2 separate regions of the Homo sapiens genome follow, and region 1 is linked to region 2. Evidence: fine-mapped expression QTL. Tissue or cell type: cerebellum. Region 2 holds a variant in brackets; the other region holds the start of a gene. All regions are shown on one strand. Distances are from middle to middle.

Region 1 (2,608 bases), 460 kb after region 2:
CCCTGCAGCCGTTTCCTGGAAGCAGTCGCTGTGGGTATTCTGTTCCTTGTCAGCACTGTGCTTGCAAAGAAAGCAGACACTGTGCTCCTTGTCCTTAGGGAGCCCCGCTCCATCACCCAACACCTGGCTGGACACAGGCGGGAGGCCGGGTCCGCGGGGAGCGGCGCGGGGCTGGGGCCGGACCAGTAAACACACACGGGCGCCAGGCACTGCAGGCTCCTCCTCCTCCTCCTGCCCAGCGCCTCTGCTCACAGGCACGTGCCAAGCCCCTAGGCCAGGAGGCCCAGCAGTGGGTGCAGAGCAAGCTCCTGGGAAGGGGGTGCAGGGCGGACCCCCGGGGAGAAGGGCTGGCAGGGCTGTGGGGGACGCTGACCGTGGGCCCCACGTTGCAGAAAACTGGCTGCCTGGCTGGAAGATGGGGGAGATGCCAAGCCTCTGAGGCAGCACGAGCAGGGTGCATGGAGGCCGGGGCGCGGGGAGGCTGCACTGCAGCATGCACCCCAAAGCCCAGAGGGAGTGGAGACCAGGCCCTGGAATCGAGAAGTAGAAAGGCGGCTTGGAGGCCTCGGAACCGGCTGACCTCCAACAGAGTGGGGCCGGCCCTGGAGGCAAAGAGGTGCCCGGGGTCCGGCCCTGCCTGGGGGAGCTATGTGTCATGGGCAGCCACAGGATATGTAGCCAGCTCTGAGCATATGGACCCAGGGCAGGGCTGCAAGGCAGGGCAGGGGAGACAGACGGGGGAGCAAGGAGCAGAGAGGGGGCCTCAGGCTCTCCCAGGAGGAACATTCTCCCGACAGGAGGAAGAGACGGCCCAGGGGTGACTGTGGGGAGCCATGGTGGCAGCTGGGGTCGTGGCAGATGGGAGAGAGGCTGGCGAGGTGAAGGTGCAGGGGTCAGGGCTCTGGGGCCCACATGCCTGTGGGAGCGGGCAGGCCCAGGGCTCTCCGCCACTCCCCACTCCCGCTTGGCTCATAGGCTGGGCCCAAGGGTGGGGTGGGATGAGCAGGAGATGGGGCCCAGGGGGCAAGCAGGGCCCCAAAGACATTTAGAAAAACCGGTTTATGCAGGCAGCATTCAGAGCAGGCGGCGTGCGTGGCGGGGGCCCTGGGAGCACAGAGAGGCACACGTAGGGCCCCCGAGGGTCTCCCCATTGGCCGGCAGTGACATCACCCCTGTGTCAACAGTGATGTCTGCAGCTCCGGCCAGCCAGGGTTTATGGAGCGAGACCCAGCCCGGCCTGGGCCCTCACTCCCCAGGCCCACACACTAGCCCACTGTTCAGGGTCCGGGGTGGCAGCATGGCCTGGGGGTCCTGGCACCGCTGCTCCTCTGCCCACCCTAACTTCCCGGCATGGCGGCTGCCCCCTCTGAGCGTCCCCAACCAGTAAGTGTGGGGCCAGCAGGCCTGCCGTCCTCCTCCTCTTCCCTCTAGAGAGAAACGTGGAGGTCCTGGGGCTGGGGGCGCTCATAGCCCTGTGACACAGGTGCATGGGGTCAGGGGTCCCAGAATGGCCCCTGGGAAGGACCTCAGCTGGGCCGGCGGCTCTAGGCTTCAGGGGTCTGTCTGCACAGGGGCTAGCCCCTCCCAGACCTCTGTGAAGCCAGTACGGGCCTCCCCTCCCTGCCCCGTGCTCTGTCCGGTGCTTCCTGGACTGCACTGCGGGCCACTGGTGAGAGGGTGGACAGGGAAGGGCCGCCGTGGTGCCTGTTCCTGCCCACCTGGCTGTGTGGTCCCCTCCAAGTAGGGACAACCCTTCTGAGGGCTTGGGGGCACCCTGGGGTTGCCAGGGCCTCCCAGAGCCCTGTGAGCCCCTGGGGGGTCTGGCCTGATGCCCCCCTCCACGTCCAGGGCCGGCTGTGGCCCAGAACCCCAGCTTCCCAGCAGGCCGGTGTGCGGTGGTGACCCAGGAGAGGCCTCACCTCCACTGAGGGGCCACCGACCTCTGCCAGGCCACAGAGACCCCCAAGGAGTCTGAAGGCTGGAGACCCGGGGCTGGGACCAGGTGGGACTTTCCCACGGAGCCGCCCCCAGGCCCAGCTGGGGACACGTCCCCCTTCTCTCCAGACACACCCTGCCTGCCACCACGACACACCGGCCTGTTGGGGGTCTCTTTTAAGTGCTTGCCACTCTGAGGTGACTGTCCCTTTCCAAAGAGGTTTCTGGGGCCCAGGTGGGATGCGTCGGCCTGAGCAGGAGGATCTGGGCCGCCAGGGGCTGGGGACTGTCTCCTGGGGAAGGAAGCGCCTGGGAGCGTGTGTGCTGACCCAGGACCATCCAGGGAGGCCCGTCTGTGGGGCAAGCGGGAAGGGAGCGGCTGGAGAGGCTTGGCCGCCCCCGCCCTGCCTCCCATTCCTTAGCTCCATGCCTGTCAACCTCTGTCACCCAGTGAGTGATGTCCAGGGGCCCTGGAAAGGTCACAGCATGTTTGAGCGGGGTGAGAGAGAGGGGAAAGGCGGGGGCGGGGAAAAGTACGTGGAGGAAGCTCTAGGCCCAAGGAAGGAGAAAGGGTTCTGGGAGGGAGGGAGCCACTGGGGCCGCCGGGAAGGTCCCTGCCTGCTGCTGCCACCCAGAACCCTCGCCTCTTAGCTAGCCCCCGCAGCCCCAGCCT
Region 2 (2,608 bases):
GCTCCCCTCTTTGGGGCAGGGTGGGGATGCCTCTGGGAGGGGTCTACCCCTCTCAGTCAGAGCTCCTTCTGCTCCCTCCTCTAAGCTGCCCGGGCTGCTCTGCGTGGAAGTCGAGGACACAGCCCCTGGCCCCAGGGTGGGGTGAGGGGTCCCAGTGCAGCTGGGCTGTCTCCATGCAGAGGAGCATTCCAGGGCCGAAGGGAGTACAGGGGTGGGGGTCCCTGTCCAGCTGCTCTGCCTGTGGTTCCTGCTTTCTGAATCTCTTCAAATCTCTGCCTGGAGCAAGTTCAGCCAGGAGCCGGGGAGAGCTACTCAGAGCACCCTTTCAGTGCGCCCCAGAGTATGATTTTGGAAGGCAGCAGAGAAAGGTGTGCACCTTAGCAGATATGGAGGGAAAGCTAAGAGCCCCCGCCCCCAGGGAACCTGCACTCTCTGGGTGAGGGCAGCCGTAGCTCACCCGCTGCCAGGACGCAGGCACAGACCAAGGCTTTGAGAGCCAACTCTCAAAGGGGACAGTCCTCAGGGTGCTTCCTGGTGGCAAGTGCTAGGTGGGAGTGGGGGTGCCCATGGATACAAACTGGGCCTGAGGCCAGGAATAGTGCACCACCTCACTTGAGACCACAGCATCCTAAGGGCTTCTGGGCATCCTAAGGGCTTCTGGGTGTCCTGAGGGCTTTCTGGGTGTGGCATGAGCAAAGTGGCCAGGCCTAGTTGTCTCATCTGTAAGGCGACCCAAATGTCCTCATCTGTGAGTGGAGGAGCGAAATGGGGAGCAGAGCCCAGGCCCCAGGTCCCAGAGCGGGCAGGGGCCTGTCCTGGAGTCAGCTCCCCAGCCCGGCTCTTCCATCAGGAGAAGTTCCTGCCAGAGGCGGCCAGGCAGATGCCAACAGACTCCAGGCGGCTCATCCTGAGAGTCCGGTGCCGATGAGGGAGCCACGACCCTCCTGGGAGCCTTTCTGCTGGTCCATCCACCCAGTGCCTGGGACCACAGCCAGGTCCTTCCAGTGCTCAGAACCCTCCAAGGGCAATGACAGTGCCGATCCCATGGCCCCGAGCCTCAATCCTCTAAGACAGGGTTCTCCAACCCCGGGTCCGTGGCCTGTTAGGGAGCAGGCCGCACAGCAGTGAGTGAGCGTCAGGTGAATGTGCACGGCCACCTGAGCTCTACCTCCTGTTGGATCAGCGGTGGCATTAGATTCTCACAGGAGCACAAATCCTATTGTGAACTGCGCACACAAGGGATCTAGGTTGCACGCTTCTTATGAGAATCTAATACCTGATGATCTGAGATGGAACAGTTTCATCCCAAGATCACCACTGCCC[G/C]GGTGGAAAAATCTTTCTTCCATAAAACAGGTCTCTGGTACTAAAAAGGTTGGGGACTGCTGCTCTACGGGGAACGGTGTTTCTGCAGAAGGGCTCAGGCACCCCCTTGGACCCACCACCCTTAACCTGGATCCTTCTGGAAGCACCATGCCTGCTCAGATGGACCCCACACCCTGAACCAAACATTAGAACTTCCCAGGAGATGGTCGAGAAGTGGGAAGACACCTGGGTCCCATCATGGATCTTCCCCACCTCCAGCCAGGGCCTGCTCCCCAGAGAGAAGCCCCTCCCCAGCCAGCACCCACCCACGTGGGGCTCCCAGAAGAGGGCTGGGCCAGGCAGCAGAAGCCACACCCTATCACATGGTCAGATGCCTCGTGTAAAAGCGGCCCCCTGGACTAGGGTCACGCGGCATCCCTGTGGTCACCCAGCCAGTACCAGAGACACCAGCCGCCTCCCTTTGTCAACCACGATAATTTTGCATCTGTGAGGTCTGGGGTTTCTCATGGTGGTTGGAGGAGCTGCTGGAGAGAGACAGCTACCCACCAGGAAGGGGTGTGGAGGCCAGGACGGTCTCACCGACGTGCCCGCAGGGACCCCAGATGCAAGCAGAGCATGGTGTAGGAGCATCCGGGGCTGGAGTGACCCACAGTGACAGCAATCCCATACTGGCCAGCCCCAAGGCACCTCCCGAGAGTGAAGCCAGACGCTGCCGCCCTCCCCTCTGTAACCAAATCCTTGGGGTCTGGGTCAAAGTGGCCCAGGATGGTGATATTCATTGCCTCATTCTCCCCTCCAGCAGCAGATGTTGGGCTTCTGGAAGCTTCTCTGCGGCATCTCCCCGGGCCGACACCATGCTCTCCCAGCACTGGCCACACACCAGCAACTCGTCTTGGGCATCTGCTGTCTCTCAGCTCTTCCTGGGCCTGGAATGTTCTCCTGGCATCACCGCCCTTGGGAGCTGTCTCCTCCCACAGATGCCTGAGATGAGATTGTCCCAGCCTTGTTGTTCTTGCCCGTGGACAGAGTCTTGAATCACAGCAAGATATCGCAGGGGCCAAAAGCCAGTTTGGAATGTCAGGGCTACGGAGGGCTCGTCCACCTCCCAGACAAGGCGGGTGGAATGCAGGGAACTGGGGGCCCTGCCTAGGGCCGAGCAGGGGCTCAGGACCAGGACGTGTGCATCTGCACCTTGGCTACAGGGACCGGTGGCATTCCCATCGCTGGAAGGCATGAGCTCCCTGGACCCGCTGCATCAGGACCCCTGCGTCAGGACCAGCTCCCT

Evidence for each region. PIP is the estimated chance that this variant, and not a neighbour inherited with it, causes the effect.
Region 1: it holds the start of MRPL23-AS1, and the variant in region 2 is fine-mapped to the expression of MRPL23-AS1 in cerebellum (GTEx, PIP above 0.99).

Annotation. Positions count from the first base shown.
Region 1 is chr11:1,988,601-1,991,208 of GRCh38, reverse strand. It overlaps MRPL23-AS1 (MRPL23 antisense RNA 1), which reads left to right and starts at 1,289. Exons shown (of 4, transcript NR_024471.1): 1 at 1,289-1,383. It overlaps LINC01219 (long intergenic non-protein coding RNA 1219), which reads right to left and starts at 113. Exons shown (of 3, transcript NR_126400.1): 1 at 1-113. It also overlaps a transcript of MRPL23 not described here. RefSeq lists enhancers at 1-2,608, 1-2,608.
Region 2 is chr11:2,449,918-2,452,525 of GRCh38, reverse strand. The region is part of intron 1 of KCNQ1 (potassium voltage-gated channel subfamily Q member 1); the gene reads right to left. Among named protein-coding and RNA genes, the nearest start is that of KCNQ1, 6.2 kb to the right of the region's middle. The variant G/C (reference allele first, on the strand shown) is at 1,324.